Linked DNA regions of Homo sapiens: all the other regions are reported to be linked to region 1. Evidence: microRNA targets listed by miRTarBase, many of them from high-throughput screens and not tested one by one. Region 1 holds a microRNA gene; each other region holds the end of a gene's coding sequence.
The links. Region 1 holds the annotated microRNA hsa-miR-365b-5p (AGGGACUUUCAGGGGCAGCUGU, at 1,396-1,417, opposite strand). A microRNA usually pairs through its seed, bases 2 to 8, with sites in the 3' UTR of a target mRNA and lowers its output. Matches are read on the target gene's strand: a 7mer-m8 pairs with bases 2 to 8, a 7mer-A1 pairs with bases 2 to 7 and ends in A, and an 8mer does both.

Region 1 (3,080 bases):
CGACAGTGCAAGACTCCATCTCAAAACAAATAAAAATAATAATAATAATTTAAAAAAAGGTATTTCTGCTTCTCGACAATCCCCCAGGACCTCCAAAAGCCTTGGCTGGTCAAAATAGAGTCATGTGTCACTTAACAACGGGGATCCATCCTGAGAAAGGCATTGTTAGGTGATTTTGTTATTGTGCCAACCTCACAGAGTGTGCTTACATAAACCTAGATGGTGAATAGCCTGCTGCACACCTAGGCTAGGTGGGGGAGCCCATTGCTCCTAGGCTACACATCTGTACAGCACGTTCCTATCCTGAATGCTGTAGACAATTAGAACACAATGGCAAGCGTTTGTGTACCTAACCAGAAAAGGCACAGTAAAAACAGTGTTATAATCTTATGAGACCACTGTCCTACATGCGGTCCCTCGTTGACCAAAACATCGTTAGGCAGTGCATGACTGTATCTGCAGGGTGGGGCTGGATAGGGCAGGGGTAGGGAGACCTGCTGAGAATGGAGGAGATCCATGAAGTGAAATAAGGATGGAGGACTTTCAGTCAAGGAAAAGCAAGCTCCAGGGTCACAGTAGAGGGGGAAAGACCCTCAATTCACTGTTCTATTTTCAAAATGGCTAGTTCACTGGGTCTCAGACAGACAGTGGATTCTGAGGCTCCTTCTATTTTATTTTATTTATTTTTTGAGACAAGGTCTCACTGTGTTGCCCAGGCTGGAGTGCAGTGGTGCAATCTTGGCTCACTGCAACCTGCAACTCCTGGGCTCAAGCAATTCTCATGCCTCAGCCTCCCGAGTAGCTGGGACTACAGGCACACACCACCACACCCGGCTAACTTTTGTATTTTTAGCAGAGATGGGGTTCTGCCATGTTGGCCAGGCTGCCTTCTATTTTAAAATACAATGCAAGTTCCTGCGCAGATAGATGCCTCCTCTACTCCTGCCTCAACTTCTCAGGAAAGGTTGGGGGGCATCTTGTCCAGCCCAACTCTGTTGCCTCTAACATCACTGACCCGGAAGATGACCTTCCTTGGGCACTGCACGTGCAGCTAGGCTCTTCCAGGCCTTCACTGCACACAAACCAGGGAGTTCCTGCACCCTCCTGGGCTCCAACCTGCACAGGAATATCTTGATGTCCAGCCCTCCCGACCCTCAGCCACTCCAATCCTCCACCAGAAGAGAAGATGCTAAAAATGCACGCAAACAAAATTGTTTTAATAATCAGCAAATCCCCATTCACTCTTATTTTGGACGTACATTCCAATCTGACCCCAGGAAGTCCCGGTCCTCCCAGAAGGGCCAGGTGGGTGAGAGGCAGGTTGCTGGCCGCTGCCCGATGCACACTGCAAGAACAATAAGGATTTTTAGGGGCATTATGACTGAGTCAGAAAACACAGCTGCCCCTGAAAGTCCCTCATTTTTCTTGCTGTCCTTGAACACTCTCCAGGTGAGGAAGCAGTCGTCTGCCACGCCCAGATGAGCCGAGGTGAAGCTGGTGTTCCCTCACCCGACACTGACGCCTTCCCCACAGCCCATGGAAAGCTCCCTGGTGGGTGGGAAGGCTGCAGGGTCTCCAGAGAGACACAATTTTCTCCGATGCCGGGCCCAGCTGCGGCCAGCCTCGCCGCCCTCCCAAGGCATACCCAGGAATGACCTGGGTTCCACCTAAAGCCAACTCAGAACCCAGCGCCTTCTGCCTGCAGGAAACTGCAGACCAGCATCCTGGTGGAATCCCAATGTGGAGAGCAGCCCCCAAAACTCGGGAACGTGGCAAGAACTATACTATAGTCTGTAGCCCCTGTGTTCACAGGAGGGGCGTGGACCATCTCAGAGAGACAATGATGGTCTCAGGCCTGGCGTGACACATGAACACAAGACAGCCAGCCTCCAACCTTCTTGTAACCAGGCCTGAGGCCAGGCCTGATTCAGGCAAAGAGAAGAAAACACCAGGAAGTGCCCAGAAGAGCAACCCAGGCCTGAAAACCCGGGAGAAGAGCTGCCCCGACTCTCTCCAGCCCATCTTAAAGAACGGCACACAGACAGGAGATTCCAACAGGAATGGGCACGGGAACTCCGGTTCCGCTTCTCTCCAGCAGTCGCGGCCTTGGTTACTCTGCCTGTAAAATGGGCCTGGAAGGAGCTAAGCTCCCACCACCCTCTCTCCCATTTCAAAGGGAAAGCCAAAGAGGAAATGAGACTTTCAGCTCTGTCACAGAAAGCAAAGGGGCTGGAAGAGGCTGCAACCTGTGAGAAACAGCACGCCCTGGGGTGCTGCTGAATGGATCTCAGGCCCGCCCACCAATTCTCGGCCATATCCCACCCTGCCCTTAGCAAAAGAGCAACAGCTTCACATTGGCCTGAGTGGGAAGGCAGGTCCTCCCAATACCCTTCTATGAAAACGGCCTACAATGGGCAACAAAGACAAGTGTGAAGACCTCTGGAATGTCCTAGGTGGTTTCTGGGTTCAAATCAACAAGCCCACAGGCTCTGCTGGGAAGCACAGGCTGAAAGAAACCAAGGTTGGGTGAAGGAGATGGTGAGACAGTGGCCAAAAAGAAGGGAAGAGACTGGTGGCCAATTTGTTTTTTGTATGGGAGGATAAAAAACAAGAGCTTCCAGAATCAGAGACTCGTAGAGGATTCTCCTTAATGGGACAATCCCTTCTGTCCCGAGGCCCAGGTGAGCCTCCAGGGCAGTAGAGGGTCAACCCCAGCGTCAGGGCATCAGGGCCCAGACCAGGAAGGCCCCTAGGGAATGAGGTCCTGCATGTGCCTCCCACCTGTGGAATGTCACCCAGCAACAGGAAACGTGTCTCCTGAGGCCAGGCCACTTTGCCCAAGGCCCCGGCACAGCTGGAATCTGTCCAGCCTGGCACTGCACCTGCTCTTTGGGGGCCCCACTGTCCATGCAGGAACCTGGCCTGTCAGGACACAGGTTGCCACCGCTGTGGTGAAAACACATCCCCACAAAAGACAGCCAGCTGCTGGCACCACTACCTGCTAACTTGCTGTATGACCTGACCCTGTGTAAATTACTCGGCTTCCCAGCCTCAGCTCTCTTATCTGTAATAGGAATAAT
Region 2 (3,080 bases), not on the chromosome of region 1:
GCAGGGTCTTTACCTCAAACCGTACCTGGGTCTTCTCTCTTCAAACCTGGGTTTTCCCCACTGCCACCTGTTGTGCCCCATCTCGGGTGTGGCTTCCTGCACTGGAGGTCTGTGCCCTCCCATCCTCACCTCTCCCCAAACTGAGGCCAGGCCTCCTGCCCCTGGGCCTTGGCCCTTGCTGTTCCCTCAGTGCCGCAGTCTAGCCTGCCTGTGTTCTGCCTTGGGACCAAGGGACCACCAGGCCCCACATCCCTCTAGAAGGTTCTGTAACAGGACCTCTGTGTCTGTTTCCACAGGAGCCTTCTGATGGAGCGTGATGCCTTGAAGCCCAACTCGCCCCTGACCGAGCGGCTCATCCGCAAGGCAGCTACCGTCCACCTCATGCAGTGAGCCAGCCTGGCCGCCTCCACCCTGCAGAACCTCAGTGGTGGCGTCACTGCGTCCAGTCAGCTGCTCCACCGGGTTAGGGTCAGGAGACGGCCAGAGCCTGTTTGTTAGGGCTGTTAGAGGGTGATCTTCAGTTTTACAGGAAGTGGGTCACGGGTTAATTTTAAATGTGATTCCGAATCTCCTTTCAGTCCTCGAGAAGGGCCAATGAGCATTTTTCAGCAGTCACAGCCAGTGTGAGTGCTGCTCTTTCCACCTGCCTTGCAAATTCTGTTTCCCAGGGGAATGTGTCTACTGCCTGGTGGTTCAAAGGTTGGAAGGCAGGGCAGAGGTGGGGGCTGATTCTGCTGGGACAGGTCTTCCAGAGGCAGCCTCCCCCCACTGCCTGTCCCCGTCCCCACCAGGCTGCCCTTGGGATGGACCTTTTCATTCTTTTCTTTATATTCTAGACAGTCTCTGTTGTCTCATTGTGTTGCTGTCCCATTTTTCAGGTGAGGGTACCGGGGTAGGGGAGTGGCCTGCCCAGGGTCACACTATGAGAGGCCCCCACCTGCTGCCTTTGGACGCAGCCCCCTGCTGCTGCATCCACCACCCTTCTTACAGATCAGCGCGCACATGGGGTCCTTCTGCTGTCTCTGGGGCGAGTCTTGGAGCCCCCTGGGGGGCTCTGTTGGTGCTGATTTGGACCCGTTTCTCTTTTTAAACTGCACATCATAACAGGGCTTCATGTCGAGCATGATTTTAATCATAAATGCACTTCTGAGGTGCAAGGATTGAGCTCAGAGCTGCTCTGTTGTGGCAAAACCCAAAGTGCTGTGATGTGTGGCTGTGACAAGCCTGGAGCGGGTCCTGTGAGCGCCGCCTCTGTCTCCTGCTTCCCCACTGAACGCCTGCTGAATGTGCCGCTGACTCAGCTGTGCTGCTTTCAGCCCTCCTGTGAGGGGCGGTCCCAGTGCACAGATGTTTTTCAAGTTCCTCAGTTTGTACTGAAATTAGGGATTCATCAGGGCAGGAAGCAGGCAGGCCTCTCAGAAGGGAGAGGAGGCCTCCAAATCTATTGAGTCCCCACAGTTTGCTCAAGCCCAGGCAAATTTCTGTGATTAAAATGAATTCATCAGTTCCTCCAAGTCTTTGAGCATCTGTGGTGCAGGCCTGGGGCTGGGTCCTGGGGAGATGGCTTCTCCTTGAACTTAAGGTAGGTGGGGCAGGCCAGGCGCAGTGGCTCACGCCTGTAATCCCACCACTTTGGGAGGCTGAGGTGGGTGGATCCCCTGATGTCAGGAGTTCGAGATCAGCCTGGCCAACATGGTGAAACCCTGTGTCTACTGAAAATACAAAAATTAGCTGAGCATGGTGGCACACGTCTGTAATCCCAGCTACTCGGGAGGCTGAGGCAGGAGAATCACTTGAACCTGGGAGGCAGTGATTGCAGTGAGCCAAGATCGTGCCATTGCACTGCAGTCTGGGCAACAGAGCGAGACTCCCATCTCAAGGGAAAAAAAAAAAAAAGTAGGTGGGGCATCTAGTCAAGAAAATGGGAGGTCGGGCGCAGTGGCTCACGTCTGTAATCCCAGCACTTTGGGAGGCTGAGGCAGGTAGATCACGAGGTCAGGAGATCAAGACCATCCTGGCTAACACGGTGAAACCCCATCTCTATTAAAAATACAAAAAATTAGCCGGGCATGGTGGTGGGCGCCTGTAGTCCCAGCTACTCGGGAGGCTGAGGCAGGAGAATGGCGTGAACCCGGGAGGCAGAGCTTGCAGTGAGCGGAGATCGCGCCACTGCACTCCAGCCTGGGCGACAAAGCAAGACTCCGTCTCAAAAAAAAAAAAAAAGAAAGAAAGAAAAGGGGTAATTATAGTAGTATTTCCAGAGAGGCGCCTTCTCTACCCAAGAACTAGGGACACATCCTAAGGGGAGCCTCCTTCCCCTCTCCTGGTTCCAAGCAAGAAGACATGACTTGGCTGTGCAATTGGGAACCCTGGTCCCTCCTCCAGGAAGCCTTCTACCCGCCAACCCCCACTGCAGGCTGGTGAGGGTGCTGCCTCTGTGCCCCTCAGCCCTTGGCACTTGCCCTTGCTCTTGCACCCCTGCCATGACCTCTCCAGGTCAGGGACAGCATCTGTCCCCAGCATCACCTGGCACATGGCCTGCACTGAGTAGCTGTCAGTGAAAGTTGGTGAATGAAGGCATAAATAAATGAAGTCAAACTCTGTATTAGGCCTTCTTGCATTGCTATGAAGAAATACCTGACGCTAGGTAATTTATAAAGAGGTTTAATTGGCTCACAGTTCTGCAGGCTTTTCAGGAAGTATGGTGCTGGCATCTGCTTCTGGTGCAACCTCAGGAAGCTTAAGATCATGACATAAGGTGATGGGGAGCCAGTATATCACATAGTGAGAGCAGGAGTAAGAGAGAAGGGGAGGTCTTAGACTCTTAAATAACCAGATCTTGTGTGAACTAAGCAAGAACTCATCACCAAGGGGATGGTGCTGAACCATTCATAAGGGATCTGCCCTCACGACCCAATTACTTCCCACCAGGCCCCACTTCCAACATTGGGATCACATTTCAACATGAGATTTTGAGGGGACACACATCCAAACTACAGCAAATCCTATTGGGGGCAGAAATGAATCTGCCATACATAGGCCACACCTACTATGTGCTGACATGATACAGGGAGAGGAGT
Region 3 (3,080 bases), not on the chromosome of region 1:
AGGACAAAAATTGTTATTAAAACATCTACATTATTATCAAGATACTAGACCTTATGAATATTTAATATTAAAGTGTGGTATTCTTAAATTTTTAATACACAGACATTTTAAAGGACCATTAAATTGATTACTGCCCAGCTGAGAAATGCAGCATCCCTCCCCACCCACCCCGCCCCCATGCTTGCCATGCCATCTTGTCCCTGCCTGCCGGGGGGAACACAGGTCCCAGATTCAGTCCTCTGAGCCTCCCAGCCTGGGGCCCTAGAAGGCTCACAACTGAAATAGTTACCCTCATCATTAAAAGGGTCTTCCTGTCCCTCCTCCCCATCACACTCTGCCTCCCACTCTCTCTTCCTTACCCTGTGGGGGCTCCAGCTCTGGCCAGGCCAGGAAGCCCCAGATCCCAAGGGTCCCTGGACAGATCACAGGCTGAAGATGAAAACTCTGGACTTGAATCCTGTTCTTTTCAGCGGGGAGACAAATACAAATCACCTTCTTTCCCTGAGCACTCCCACTCTCTCCGCACTCGATGGGGGTGGTCTGGGAAGCTAGCAGAGTTGGGCCTGGGGAGGGTGGCTCCTGTCCCTGGCTGCCCGAATCACCTCTGAGCCATGGCTCCAGTCCCTGTCACCTTGCAAATAGTCCAGTGGCCCCTGAAACCCTCCTAATCACACAAGGATGGCTGCATTTTCTGGCCAAATTCTTTATCTTTAGCCCTCATAAAAGTGATTCCTTGGATACCACACACATATATAATATTATATAGAGCGATATATTTAATACCTGTGTATATATGCATCACGGGGGCGACATATATACACACTAGAAACAAGGCTGGTGACAACGGACTGCAACACCACGGATCAGGGAAAACGAGTATCATCGACATCACGGCCACACATGGCCACAGCCCCCACCTTGGGTGTGGTCTCCCCTCCCCTACAGCCACACCACCAGCACCCAAACTCTGCAGTGCTGGCCTGCTGCGGCCAGGGGGTGGGGCAGGGAAGAGGAAAGGGCGCATGCCACGATTATCAGGAAAGGTTGGGCAGTGGCGGCGGGAGGAACAGCGTCCCCTCCAGCCCTGGGCAGCCCATCACTGTGTCAGCGCGCGCTGGCAATCCTTGCTTGAGAAGAATGGGGTGGTCCCTTCTCTCCTTCTCACCCCCCTACAGCCTAATCCCTGGTTCCTTCCGGGGCTGCCCCACTCCTGTGCCAATGATGTGGGGCATTCTGGAATGTCTGGGGAACCAGGGCACGGTGGATCTGCCCTGGTTGATGGAAGGTAGGGTGGAGAGGAGGGGGGTGCACACAGACATGTCAGACGAGAGGGACGAGCGAGGCCTTGGTGAGTGGGGGCAGGGGCTGGGGGTCCACTGAAGTCCCAGACAGCTGGGAGGGCCAGGGATTAGGGAGGGGCTAGGACAGACGGTTATAACTGTATGTCTGGGTCTAGAGGAGAGGACATACTGGGTCCCCAAGAAAGAGGGGCCGTGTCCCATCCTGGAGTGGCCCATGGTGCCCGGGGTCAAGCCTCCCTTTTCTCCGCATTCCCCCAGACCCTCACCCTTCCCACCTCCCACACCTCACACAGATCCTGAGCTCATGGTGTCCTGCCCTCTGCCACCTTTCCCAGAGCGCATGTCAGGAGGTGACCTCTGCTGCTGCACCCAAAGGGACCATCCTTGGGAGGGGGCGGTCCCTTCATGGGGTGCTCACATGGCCAGCCCTCCTCTGGGCCTCCCCTCCCCAGCCCCCAGGCAGCGCTGCCTGGGACCCCAGCTGCACACTGATTCAGAGACCATCGCATCCCTGCTGAGGGGACCGTGGGCTCAGCCAATAATTGGCCCTGAGTCTTTTCAGCCCTGTTTTCATCCCAGCTCTGCCTTGTGCTGGGACCGTGGGTGGACCACTCCTCCCTTCTAGGCCTCAGTTTTCCTCTCTGCAAAATGGGGTTTGGGCTGGATCATCTCTGAAGGCTCTGAGGACCTACAGTCTATTTTCACTGGCCCACGAGGGAGCAGGGTTCAGGTGGTGGCATCAGAGAAAGGGCTGGGACTCCTTAAGCTCCAAAGATCATCTAGCCCACCTCCTCCCAGCCTTCCGGAGGGAAAGCTGAGGCCCCAGAGGGTAAGTGGCCAGTACAGTGTTCCCAGCTCCAACCTGGGGCTACATTTTAAAGCTAATGGGGCCTCTGCCCTCTGTTGTGTCCTGATTTGCCCCCAGGGGGAGGGGGTGGGAGGAGGACGGGCCAGGGAGAGAAGGACCCTCCTGCTGGAGATTCAAGTGGGGACCCCAGGCTCCCCAGCCCTGAGCTTTGGGCCCCCATTAGGAGCAGACAGAAGTTAAAGCTGGAGGCTGAAGCTGGAGGGGTCAGCCAGGCCCCTCCCTCCTCAACCAGGAGAGCCGTGGGGGTGGGGGAAGGGCAGCCCAGGTTTCAGCGGGGCCTCCGGGGGCTGCAGCACGTGCGCCTGGGTACGCACACCGGGGCGGTGGTGGGGAGAAGATGGACAGGGCCTCAGGGGGCTGGGGGCTGCCTGATGAGGGCGGCCCCCCACCCCCCTGGCCTGCCCTGACCCTTCTATCAGGCCTTCTGGCCCCACCCCACCCCCTGACCCCAGGACTTCACCCACGGCCAACACCTGGCCCTACTCCCCAGTGGTGGCGGTGGCAGCAGCAGCAGGGGCTTCTGGGGTGGCACCGGCAAGGTCCCCGTCCTCTTGCAGCAGGAAGTTGTATTTGCCAAAGTCGTCGTCCCGTGGGCACAGCAGCATGTCCTTGCGAGCCTTGGCCAACTTCTGCTTCAGCACCTCGCGCCGGTCCAGCCACTCGTTGAGCTCCTCCTGTCCATGGGCGCAGCGGCACTTGTCCCCATCTGGGCAGGCTTTGCCCTTCTGGAGCCTGTGGGTGGCAGGAGGCTCACTGCCCGAGCTCTGTGCCCTTCCCACCCCAGGCTGTCCATCTGGGGCCGGCCGCTTGACCTCCCCGAAGACAAGCCTCTCCCTGGGCAGCTGGGTCCCAGCTCAGGGAAAACCTGGGTGTCCTGACCCTCTCTGGGATCTGCCCCACAGCTGCAAATT
Region 4 (3,080 bases), not on the chromosome of region 1:
ACATGACGAAACTTGACTGGGCTAGCCTCCCAGCCTACATCTTTCACCCATGCTGGATGCTTCCTGCCCTCAAACATTGCACTCCAAGTTCTTCAGCTTTGGGACTTGGACTGGCTTCCTTGCTCCTCAGCTTGCAGATGGTCTACCGTGGGACCTTGTAATTGTGTGTGTCAATACTCCTTAATAAGCTCATATATATATATATCTCCTATTATATATATATATCTCCTATTATATATATATCTCCTATTATATATATCCTATATATATAATATCCTATTATATATATCCTATATATATATAATATCCTATTATATATATCCTATATATATATAATATCCTATTATATATATAAAGTATATATATTTATATATACTTTATATATATTTGTATATATATCCTATATAGCTCCTATATATATCCTATTATATATATATCCTATTTTATATATATATCCTATTTTATATATATATCCTATATGTAATATCCTATTTTATATATATATGTACCTCCTATATATATAGGAGTTTATTAAGGAGTGTTGACCCACACAATTACAAGGTCCCACAATAGACCTTGCAATATATATATATAGATATAGATATAGATATAGATATAGTATTGTGTGATATATATATATATATATATATCCTATTAGTTCTGTCCCTCTAGAGAACCCTAATACAGATGGAATGAGATTTTTAAAAGTAGATGCTTTTCTAGGTCGAGAGCAACCAAATTTTGGCAATTTCACATGACGTGAGCTCTACTTAGGAATCCTACAATTCTGGATTCTCTGTCTTCTTACCTGAGTTTTACCTATTCCTGCTCTTCCTGAGCTTCTCAGAATATGCCTTTAAATTCCACCATCTATCCTTAAGCCAGTTGAGTTCCCACTAAGCTCCTCTAGCCAACCCAACATCCATTCCATAAACATTCTTTGAGCACCAGTTCTGAACCAGGGACTGCTGCAGACACAAGGGCAGATGTAAGTCTGTCTTAGCCTTTGAGGAGTTCATAGTCTAGTGGGAAATTGAAACTTTAAAAATGTACATAATTAGGTTGGTGATAGAAATATGTCCAAAGTGTGGAAGAGAATCAAGAAGCATCATGCTTACGGGAAAGAGTGAGGATGATTTCAAAGAAGAGTCGATATGTGGATTGTGTCCTGAGAGAACTGTAAGATTTCCTGAACAAACCCAAGTAGGGAAGGCATTACAGCAGGCATGATGTGAAATCTGGGCTCTGGAGCCATGAAAGAACACTGAAAGTTCTGGGGAAGGGCCAGTAGCTCCATAGGGCCCAATGATAGGATGCAAGGAGGGGCTGGGTGTGGTGGCTCACACCTGTAATCCCAGCACTTCGGGAGTCCAAGACAGGAGGATCATTTGAGGCCAGGAGCTCAATACTGCAGTGAGCTATGATCGCACCACTGCATTCCAGCCTGGGTGACAGAGCAAGAGCTAGTCTCTAAAAATTAAAAATAAAGAAGATGCAAGGATATAAAAGGAGATTGCTGTCAGATCTTAAAGGAGCATGACATTCTCTCCCTGAATCATGTGTTTAAGCCACAAAATTTTTTTCTAACCAGAGAAGTGACATGATGTTTGTTTTTGAAATATAATTTTGCAAAATTGTCATTTTTGAAATATAATTTTGCAAAAATTATATTTCAGGAGTGCTTTTCTTCCTGTGACCTGTGAGACCAGAAAGAAGAATCAAGCCAAATGAGTAGGATGTGTAGGCTGTAAAAACTATCTTTATTTTTTTTCTACTTATAAAAGAAATACAGATTCATTCTAAACAATTCAAACATTATAGAAATACACAACATAGAAATCAAATGCTCCCTGTAATCCAACCTCCCAGACCCAAACCACTGTTACTACATCTGGTATAGATTTCTTTACACTTTTATTTCAATGCCATTTCAATGGCAAAAACCACAATTAGTTTTGCACCAACCTAATAGTTTATAACATATTAATATGTTTTTTCCATACCAGGAAATATACAGCTACCTTATTCTTTTTAGTGGCATGTAATATTATATTACATTAATGTACTATAATTTATTGAATTAGACCTTATTTTGTGGCCATGAGGATGTTTTCCATTTTTTTCTTTTTTTTTTTTCTTTTTTTTGAGATGGAGTCTCGCTCTGTCACCAGGCTGGAGTGCAGTGGCTCGATCTCAGCTCACTGCAACTGCCACCTCCCGGGTTCAAGCGATTCTCCTGCCTCAGCCTCCCAAGTAGCTGGGACTACAGGCGTGCACCATCACGCCCAGCTAATTTTTGTATTTTTAGTAGAGACAGGGTTTCACCATGTTGGCCAGGATGGTCTCCATCTCTTGACCTCGTGGGTCACCCACCTTGGCCTCCCATAGTGCTGGGATTACAAGAGTGAGCCACTGCACCTGGCCACATTTTTCATGATTATAAACAATCCTGGGATGAACACCTTTTTCCATAAGCCCTTATAAACTTGTGAAGGTGTTTCTATAGGATACATTCTTAGAAATCCTTCTAGAAACTGATATGAAGGGAATAACCATTTTTTATTTTAATAAATATTGTCAAATTGCCATCATAAAGGTTGTATCAATGTACATCCCAACAGTGTATGTGGTCCCCAACTTCCCAAGGACTGTGGGATTTTATAGACAATCTGTTCTCATCAGAGAGATTGTAGAACCTCGAGACTCTTCATTTAACTCTGTGAATGTCTGCAGTTCATACATTTCTCTGGTGGCTAATACATTAACATTAATAGCAGCTCGAAGGTTTGCCCAGAAAAGCCCACATTTACGCCTATCCTTGGGCCATTCCAAGTATGCTTTTTTTTCCAGGAGAGCTTTCAGTTTATGATACCTGGTGGGAATGCAATAGAATGGAATGGGTTCCAGTAAGATAAGAATTATATGATCAGAATTTTCATGGAAGAGATTGTGGTGGGCAAAGTAGAATTCATAATGGCACCACTCATTCTGGACAAAGTTGGGAGACAAAACAAAGATGGACTTATAGCTTTTCTCAATGAAGCTTACAATATTTTCACTAATGCTTTTGCCAGGGTCAA

Region 2: the mRNA of TTC38 is a reported target of hsa-miR-365b-5p. The part of its 3' UTR that is shown has no 7-base or 8-base seed match.
Region 3: the mRNA of ZC3H7B is a reported target of hsa-miR-365b-5p. Seed matches in the 3' UTR shown: 7mer-A1 at 2,054-2,060.
Region 4: miRTarBase lists TLR10 as a target of hsa-miR-365b-5p. Seed matches in the 3' UTR shown: 7mer-A1 at 2,259-2,265.

Annotation. Positions count from the first base shown.
Region 1 is chr17:31,573,776-31,576,855 of GRCh38, reverse strand. It overlaps MIR365B (microRNA 365b), which reads right to left and starts at 1,445; the gene lies at 1,335-1,445. It overlaps MIR365BHG (MIR365B and MIR4725 host gene), which reads right to left. Exons shown (of 3, transcript NR_186556.1): 3 at 1,197-1,345. It overlaps MIR4725 (microRNA 4725), which reads right to left and starts at 1,587; the gene lies at 1,498-1,587. RefSeq lists an enhancer at 2,871-3,080.
Region 2 is chr22:46,292,495-46,295,574 of GRCh38, forward strand. TTC38 (tetratricopeptide repeat domain 38) reads left to right here. Exons shown (of 14, transcript NM_017931.4): 14 at 297-1,514. The coding sequence ends at 390. It overlaps GTSE1-DT (GTSE1 divergent transcript), which reads right to left. Exons shown (of 1, transcript NR_024009.1): 1 at 2,649-3,080. Among named protein-coding and RNA genes, the nearest start is that of GTSE1-DT, 2.6 kb to the right of the region's middle.
Region 3 is chr22:41,356,998-41,360,077 of GRCh38, reverse strand. It overlaps ZC3H7B (zinc finger CCCH-type containing 7B), which reads right to left. Exons shown (of 23, transcript NM_017590.6): 23 at 1-2,901. The coding sequence ends at 2,649. Among named protein-coding and RNA genes, the nearest start is that of TEF, 23 kb to the left of the region's middle. RefSeq lists an enhancer at 1-82.
Region 4 is chr4:38,770,497-38,773,576 of GRCh38, forward strand. It overlaps TLR10 (toll like receptor 10), which reads right to left. Exons shown (of 4, transcript NM_030956.4): 4 at 1,742-3,080. The coding sequence ends at 2,659. Among named protein-coding and RNA genes, the nearest start is that of TLR10, 11 kb to the right of the region's middle.